Linked DNA regions of Homo sapiens: region 2 is linked to region 1. The links come from fine-mapping of genetic effects on gene expression. A gene starts in region 1. The other region holds a variant in brackets. All regions are shown on one strand. Distances are between the middles of the regions. Region 1 holds the start of TTLL12 (tubulin tyrosine ligase like 12). Region 2 overlaps TSPO (translocator protein).

Region 1 (4,377 bases):
CAGCAGGAGGCTTCACTCAGGAAGAGCTGCAAGTTTGTGAATGGTAAAGCAGTGATTCAGCTCTGTCCTTAACGGCTGGGGAAGGGTCACGGAAAAACACTGGCTGCCCCTTAGTAGGGCAACAGCAGGCAAGGCGGCCTGGGCAGGGGACGTGGCACGGTGGCGACCACCCTCTGTGTGCCAGGCATATTTCTCATGCCACCTCCCATCCTTCCAATACTGTGGGAGCCAGATGGTGTCTCACCATCCCCTTCCCAGATGGAGAACAGGTCTCAGACGGGCGAGTGACCGCCCGAGGGAGGGCGTGCTGCCGTGGAGGCTGGCTGGGCAGGAGCTGGTCATTCCCACTGTGCTCCTTCCACGCAGCCCATGGGAACCTTTTTGTCCTCATGAACAAACCAAGGTCCCTTCCACCCAGCACAGGCCTGGGACCAGAGTGGTCCTCGGAAAGCATATGGCAGAAGTGAGGGGCAGAGGAAACTCTCTGTTACACTGTAGCATAAGGAGGTGCCACTCACTGCACGTTTCCAGCAGGAAGGTTCCTAGTCCAATCAGGATTACACAGAGAAAAACTGGCTCAGAGACCGTAGAGTCTGGCCAGCAGCCAGGCTCAGGGACTCCTAGTTCCCGGCCCGGGTCCCTGTTCTTGGCTCTGGGGTTTCCACTTCATCACCTGCGCCACTAGGCTCATCTCCGTCCGGGAGACAGCACCTGGAGGAGATGTCGGGTCCCAGCTAAAGAAAACACCCCCCCCCCCGCCAGCCCGGGAAGGTGCTGTGGCCTCAGCCTCTGGGCACGCAATAAAAATCCAGGGCTCATCCCCAGCCAGGACAGTGGGGAACGCTTTGGAGTGGAGGAGGCAGGTGAGCCGGATGGGCCGTCCTCACAAAAAGGGAGAGAACCTAGAGGCTTCTCAATCTTTTCCATTTTTCTTTAGATTTCTCCTCCACCTCTCACAGCCTGTTTTCTTTAACCTGCAAGATGAGGGGACCCCGAGGCTCAAATCAAATGAAAAAACACCGAATTCTGTGAACCCAACAGTTACAGCTACACAAATTCACGGGGTTCCCGTTGTCCCTGTGAGGCAGCGGCTGAAAGAATCCCTCTGAAGGGACTCTCGGAGCCGCAGTGTTCTCATCTGTGAAGTGGGGGTGATGAGTTTCACTCCTCGCAGGGCTGTGTCAGGCTCGGGTGTGTGGAGGACCTAAAGTTCCCAACGCAGCCCTCAGCCGGTCTCGGGCCCGGGCAGATCAGGGCCGCAGGTACCCCGGTCTCCTGCTGTCACTCTTCGGCCCCCAACTCCACGCCGCTCCAGAGCTGCCCAGGACGCGCTCTGGGTGGCTCACCGCGGCTCCCGCCGCCCGGGAGCGCTCTTCCCTGTCCCGCGCCGCGGGCTCCCGCCGCGCTCCCACCCCGGCCGCCGCACGTGCCCGCCGCCCTTCCCCGCACCTCGTGCTCCAGCTTGTGCAGGAGGCGGCCCCAGTAACGTTCGGGGACCCCCGAAGCGCGCAGCGCCGGGCCGTGCAGCGCCGCGAACTCGGCCAAGGCCTGCGCGCCCTCCTCCGGCGTCTGGCCCGGGCTGCTACGCTCCGCAGGCCGGCGCTCGGGACCCCGCTCGGCCTCCATGGCGCCAGCACCCGCGCCGACTCCAGCGCCGCCACCGCCGCCGCCGCCCGCCGTCCGTCGGCCCTGCCCTCCCGCCTCCGCCCCCTGCCCCGCCCCGCCCTCCTCCCAGCGCCCCCCCCCCCGCCCCGCCCTCCTCCCAGCCCCCCCCCGCCCCGCCCTCCTCCCAGCCCCCCCCCGCCCCGCCCTCCTCCCAGCCCCCCCCGCCTCCGCCCCCCGCCCCGCCCGCCTCCCAGCACCCCCGCCCCGTCCTCCTCCCAGCCCCCCGCCCACCGCCCCGTCCTCCCCCCAGCCCCCCGCCCCTGCCGCGCCCCCTGCCCCCGCCCCCTGCCCCCCTCCCCACCGCCCCGTCCTCCTCCCGGCCCCCCCGACCCCTCCCCTGCCCCGCCCTCTTCTCGCCCCCTCACCCCGTCCCGCCCCGCCCCCAGTCCGCCTCCAGCCCGGTTTGCCGCGGCCCCCGGGCAGGCCCTGCGCATCGGCGGGGTGCGTGCGAGAGCGCGCGAGCTTGCCAGGAGGGGGCGCGCGTCTGCGACCGCGCCTGTGGTTTGGCTGCCGCCGTGTGCGCACGCGCACCTGATGGTGGCTGAGCTTTTCTCGCTCAGCGCGCGGCGACCCCGGGGAATGCCGGGAGGGCGGGGTGCCTACGTATAGGGCGCTGTCAGGACCGGAAAAGGCCCCACCGACGGCCCGGAAGGTGTCCTGGGGCCCGAACCCGGTGAGGCGGCGCTTCTGTGCCTGCACCGGGCACACAGAGCTCGCAGGCCCCCTGCCTTGGGAGCTCTCGATTCTTGTGAGCGTTTCACCAGATTTGGATGCTGCAAAATCGTGGCCCTTCTCAATTACTTATATTTGGATTCGGAATGTCAGTTGATCCAATTAAGACCAAGTGTACCCGTCAGAGGAATTTACTCCTACATGTCGGGATGTTTCGAAGTGCAGTTGAGCTGGGCGTGGTGGCCGCGTCTGTAGTCCCAGTTACTCGGGAGGCTGAGGCGGGAGGATAGCTTGAGCCCAAGAATTCAAGTCCAGCCTCGGCAACATAGCCAGACTCCCTCTTTAAAAGAAAACAGTTCAGTTATAGAATTTCAAAAGACATTCTCTTTTGAACTCTCATTGAGTTTTATTGCTCCATAGGGATACATTTCAATGTCTTCCTTTTTGCAATTTTGTAAGAATTGTAATTTGCTAAAAAACAAAGGCTGAAAATTTTTTGGAGCTTCAGATGCTATTTTGATAACATTTTTGAACTGAGTTTGAATAAAATGCACCAATTCACGGACTTGTTCAATTCCATTGTAGGAAGCAGGTGGGTCTGCAAAGGCAAAAATTTCCAAACTCAAGTTGGTGAGGGCTGCAGAGAAAAACATTTTATTTATTTATTTATTTTGGGATGGAGTTTTGCTCTTGTTGCCCAGGCTGGAGTGCAATGGTGCAGTCTCGGTTCACTGCAACCTCTGCCTCCCGGGTTCAAGTGATTCTCCTGCCTCAGCCTCCCAAGTAGCTGGGGCTACAGGTGTGTGCCACCACGCCTGGCTAATTTTTTGTATTCAGTAGAGACAGGGTTTCACCATGGCCAGAGGAAAACCCTGATTCCTCGGTTTTTGTTGTGGAAGCCAAGGCTGAGATTGTACCATTGCACTCCAACCTGGTCAACATAGCGAGACTCCATCTCAAAATAAATAATATAGTAAAACAGCATCACAATGCTAGGATGGGGCATGCTGGCTCACACCTGTAATTCCAGCACTTTGGGAGGCCAAGACAGGAGGATCACTTGAAATAAGGAGTTTGAGACCAGGCTGGGCAACAAAGCAAGACCTCGACCCTACAAAAAGAAATTTTTAATTAGCCAGGTATAGTGGTACACACCTAGTGCACCTCCCGCTTCCACAACCCTTCCATCGGTCCCGCTGGGGAAGACAGACTGAGTCTCAGTTGTGTCAGGTACTGGTCAGATTATGTGAACATTCCTGACCCAGCCCCTTTGACCAGGAGAATGTGAGGCTCTGACAGGGCAGTCCTCTTTCACATGCTCCTCCCCAAATGTAAACCCAGTTGTATCAGATCCCTACTTGGAACCCTTTGTGGTTCAACTCTTCACCTGAGCTCCAAGGCTCTGTGTGAGCTGGCACTGCCAACTTTTCCAGCCTCTTTTCATTACACTCTTCCCCTCACACTGTGAGTCCCTGTATCTCTGGTTGTCTTCAGCTCCTGGAAAGCATTGTGCTCTGTTTTCTGCCAGAAAGCCTTTCTCCCCATGCTCACTTTGTAAATCCTGACTCATTCTTCTCAGCTGAAATGTTGTCTTCTAAAGAGGCACTGAAGAATGTGTATTTAATCAACATAAAATTACTGCTCTGCTCCCATTACTGCCACCAACCCCCTCCCCCTCCAGACAATTGAAAAAAAGGAGAGAGAGAAACAGGGAAAAAAAAAAGAGTTTAAAAGTCCCTTCCATAGCCGGGCACAGTGGCTCATGCCTGTAATCCTAGCACTTTGGGAGGCCAAGGCGGGTGGATCACCTGAGATCAGGAGTTCGAAACCAGGTTGACCAACATGGTGAAACCCCATCTCTACTAAAAATACAAAATTTAGCCGAGCATGGTGGTGGGCACCTACAATCCCAGCTACTCAGGAGGCTGAGGCAGGAGAATTGCTTGAACCCAGGGGTGGGGGTATGGAGGTTGCAGTGAGCCAAGATCGCATCAACTCACTCCAGCCTGGGGGAAACTCCGTCTAAAAATAAAAAAGGCC
Region 2 (4,363 bases), 24 kb before region 1:
AGGTGGGCAACGCTCCTGGCCTTGTTCCTAATGGTGCTCTGAACTGCGGCCTCTGTTTCAGGTACGGCTCCTACCTGGTCTGGAAAGAGCTGGGAGGCTTCACAGAGAAGGCTGTGGTTCCCCTGGGCCTCTACACTGGGCAGCTGGCCCTGAACTGGGCATGGCCCCCCATCTTCTTTGGTGCCCGACAAATGGGCTGGGTAAGTGTGGCCACAGCATGTGTCCCTGATCCCTGGATCCGACCCTTGGAGGACGTGGGGCATCACATATGACACTGGGTCAGTGTCTATAGGCGGGGCCAGGGGAGACAAAAGGCCATGTCTCTCTAGCTGTAAGCAGCCCACACCCTGGAGCCTCCCCTCTACTGACTCCTCCGGTGAGGGAAGCTATTAAAGCAGAAGGGGTTGCAGGGGTGGGTTTGGGGGCCACTGTGTAGGAAAACCCACACGAAGCCTGGTACTGTGTGGGCAGGGTCACTGGCCCCTCTACATAACAGCTTCTTCTTTTTTTTTTTTGAGACAGAGTCTCACTCTCTCACCCAGGCTGGAGTGCAGTGGTGAGATCTCGGCCCACTGCAACCTCCACCTCCTGGGTTCAAGTGATTCCCTTGCCTCAGCCTCCCGAGTAGCTGGGACTACAGGTGTGCACCACCACTCCTGGCTAATTTTTGTATTTGTATTTGTATTTTTTTAGTAGAGATGGGGTTTCACTATGTTGGCCAGGCTGGTCTTGAACTCCTGACCTCAGGTGATCTACCCGCCTTGGCCTCTCAAAGTGCTGGGATTACAGGTGTAAGCCACCGCGCCCGGCTGACTGCTTCTTTTTTAAAGTTTTAAACTTTTTTAAGAGATGAAGACTCGCTGTGTTGCCCAGGGCAGACTCGACTTCCTGGGCTCAAACGATTGATTCTCCCGCCTTTACCTCTTGAGTAGCTGGGACTCCAGGTCACGTCACTGTGCCCGGCAGCCTTTTTTTTTTGAGACAGAGTCTTACTCTGTTGCCCAGGCTGGAGTGCAGTGGCATGATCTCGGCTCACTGCAGACTCCACCTCCCAGGTTCAAGTGATTCTCCTGTCTCAGCCTCCCGAGTAGCTGGGATTACAGGCATGCAGCACCATGTCCAGCTAATTTTCTGTATTTTTTTTTTTTTGAGACGGAGTCTCGCTCTGTTGCCCAGGCTGGAGTGCAGTGGCGTGATCTCAGCTCACTGCAACCTCCGTCTCCCAGGTTCAAGCAATTCTCCTGCCTCAGCCTCCTGAGTAGCTGGGACTACAGGCACGTGCTACCACGCCTGGCTAATTTTTTTATTTTTAGTAGAGACGGGGTTTTACCATATTGGTCAGGTTGGTCTTGAACTCCTGACCTCAGGTGATCCACCCGTCTCAGCCTCCCAAAGTGCTGGGATTACAGGCGTGAGCCACTGCACCTGACAAATAGCAAGTTTTTGTTTGGGCCTTGTAGTAATGCTGGGAGGTCAGCATCGCTCTCAGTGGAGGCTCTAAGCTCAGAGAGGGGAAGGGACGTGCAAGACCTCCTAAGCCACCACCGCACCCTTGAACAAACCGAGTTCACTTCAGGCATGTCATGTGCACCCCACACAAGGCATGGGTCAGGTGGCATGACTGTTCCCATTTTACAGATGAGGAAACTGAGGCTGCGATGGGGGAGGGGCTTGGCCAGGTCACTCAAGGGTGGAGTGGGGGTGAGTGAGGCTCCTGACTCCCAAATCCAGTGGGAGTTGGGCAGTGGGACAGGCACTTGGGTGAACGCGGTGCCTCAGGCCTCCCCATCCTCCGTCCCCCAATCTCTGCAGGCCTTGGTGGATCTCCTGCTGGTCAGTGGGGCGGCGGCAGCCACTACCGTGGCCTGGTACCAGGTGAGCCCGCTGGCCGCCCGCCTGCTCTACCCCTACCTGGCCTGGCTGGCCTTCACGACCACACTCAACTACTGCGTATGGCGGGACAACCATGGCTGGCGTGGGGGACGGCGGCTGCCAGAGTGAGTGCCCGGCCCACCAGGGACTGCAGCTGCACCAGCAGGTGCCATCACGCTTGTGATGTGGTGGCCGTCACGCTTTCATGACCACTGGGCCTGCTAGTCTGTCAGGGCCTTGGCCCAGGGGTCAGCAGAGCTTCAGAGGT[G/T]GCCCCACCTGAGCCCCCACCCGGGAGCAGTGTCCTGTGCTTTCTGCATGCTTAGAGCATGTTCTTGGAACATGGAATTTTATAAGCTGAATAAAGTTTTTGACTTCCTTTACCATGGCCTTTTTGCTTGGGTGGGACCCCTGGCCACAGGGAAGAGGGGGAGCTGGGGCTGCACTGGAGCTCGTCTCTGCAGGATCTGCCTGGGCTGCCTTCTCCAGACAGGGCTGGATCCAGCTGGGGCTGCCCCACGCTTCCTGGGACGCTCCCGAAGCCCTGCAGGAGATGAACAGAGCAGCCCTGGGTGCCACCCTGGGGCCCACACTGGCGCAGACCCAGCTGGGGCCGTGGGCTTCAGCAGAGGGAGGGGGTCCTGTCCGCTTCCCATGGCTTCCGGGATGCTCAGCCCGGGCCCTTTAATGGCCGGGCCCACAACCACTGTTCGACGCCTGGTCCTGCCCAGTGCGTGGCCCTCAGCTGCTTTTACCCAGGACAGAGTTGGGGGTGCTGACTGCCCTGTCCCCCGGGGGCCCAGGCTTATGGCAGCCTCACTGCACCAGGGATAGCCCCGCAAACACCCAGTTGGCTCGAGGGGGAGTCAGAGGCAGGAAAGGTTAGGTCCCGACTCCAGCAGACAGGGCCTCCTTGCTGGCCCAGAGCGGCCAGGATTGGAGGTGTCACAGCCACTCACTCCCTCACCCCGGCTTCGAACTGGGTGACCCATGGCCTCTCCAGGCAGCTGTTTGGAGTAAATGAGCCGAGTCCCATACGCAGCACTCCTCCGTCTTGCTCTCGGTCACCACACCCATGCAGCACTCAGCAACACAGCCCGCGGCTCCCTCCCCTCGGCCAGGCCTGACCTGCCGGGCTTTTTGTTTTTTGTTTTTGGCAGCTAAGTTCATTCAAATTGGCAAAATGTTCATAGACAGCTCGTCATCACTCAACAGCCCGCGGCTGCTGCTTCCTCTTTTCTCCCCCGGCTCCTGTGTCCTCTCCCGACCTGTACGCTCAGACACAACCTGACGTTCACAAAAGCTTGGACACAGTGGCTCACACCTGTAATCCCAGCACTTTGGGAGGCTGAGGCGGGAGGATTGCTTGAGGCCAGGTGTTTGAGACCAGCCTGGGCAACATAGGGAGACTCTTGTCTATACCATCCACTCTGGTGCACGCACAACACACACACACACACACACACACACACACACACACACGAAAGAACGAACAGCTCAGGGAAATGGGTAGACAGTCGACTGCATTCTTCTGACAGAAGGGATGGCTCCCGCCCAGGGGCTGCGCTACTCCACCCTGACCCTCAGCCTCCCGCTCCCTTGACTCTGGCAGAGTTTGATGCCCAACAGATCACGCTCTGCAGGATCCAAAAACTCTGCGGCCACGGGCACTCAGCTGAGCCCTCAGCCCTCATGGCTTTCCCGATGCTCACCGGTGCAGAGGAGCCAGCTGGGGAGCCTCTGTGTATCCTTTTTATTAACTTATTTCTGAAGTTCTCCAAGACGCCCAGAGTTGAATTCCTCCAGAGCTCTGTGCAGACAGTCCAAGCAGCGGATGGCAGAGAGGTCCTTGCTAGCAAGAAACTTACAGGCCAGGCTGTCTCCTGCTCCAGCATGCCGGTGAGCATGCACCGTCCCCGCAGGGCACAGGGGTATCCTTTGAAGTGTCAAGGGACACCTGAGTCCGTGCCAGACACTTAGGGATTGGAGAAAGTGCAACCCAGACTTCTGCCATCTCCGCAACTCGTGGGGTTGTTCATCTGTAACAAATGTCCCACATAGCTCCTGCTGGCCACAAAACACGCACTGCCACAAAACGCCTTGGAAAAATGGGCGAGAGGAGAACGCATTTAGCATTTCGTCTGCCGGCTTCCTTTTAACAGCCTGGCGACGTTTCCCCAGGAAATGCTCGTAACAGACAGCATTCTCTCCTTTTCTAAGCTGCTGTCATCCACTGGGAACTTAAGGTTTTGATGCTTTCTGAGTGGGTTTATTTATTATTTTTTTTTGAGACAGTCTTGCTCTATCGCCCAGGCTGGAGTGCAGTGACGCCATCTTGGCTCACTGCAACCTCTGCCTCCCAGGTTCAAGTGATTCTCCTGCCTCAGCTTCCAGAGTAGCTGGGATTACAGGTGTGTACCACCATGCCTGGCTAATTTTTGTATTTTTAGTAGGATGGGATTTCAACACATTGGGCAGCCTGGTCTCCAACTCC

Evidence for each region. PIP is the estimated chance that this variant, and not a neighbour inherited with it, causes the effect. A credible set is the group of variants that fine-mapping cannot tell apart.
Region 2: its variant is the best candidate, but not a certain one, in a credible set for the expression of TTLL12 in whole blood (INTERVAL, PIP 0.50).

What each region holds. Positions count from the first base shown.
Region 1 is chr22:43,185,444-43,189,820 of GRCh38, forward strand. TTLL12 (tubulin tyrosine ligase like 12) reads right to left here and starts at 1,691. Exons shown (of 14, transcript NM_015140.4): 1 at 1,450-1,691. The coding sequence starts at 1,626. RefSeq lists enhancers at 342-846, 787-866, 877-936 and silencers at 1,317-1,536, 1,577-1,736, 1,985-2,104.
Region 2 is chr22:43,160,991-43,165,353 of GRCh38, forward strand. It overlaps TSPO (translocator protein), which reads left to right. Exons shown (of 4, transcript NM_000714.6): 3 at 62-200; 4 at 1,813-2,252. The coding sequence ends at 2,001. Among named protein-coding and RNA genes, the nearest start is that of TSPO, 12 kb to the left of the region's middle. RefSeq lists enhancers at 2,056-2,559, 2,560-3,062. The variant G/T (reference allele first, on the strand shown) is at 2,141.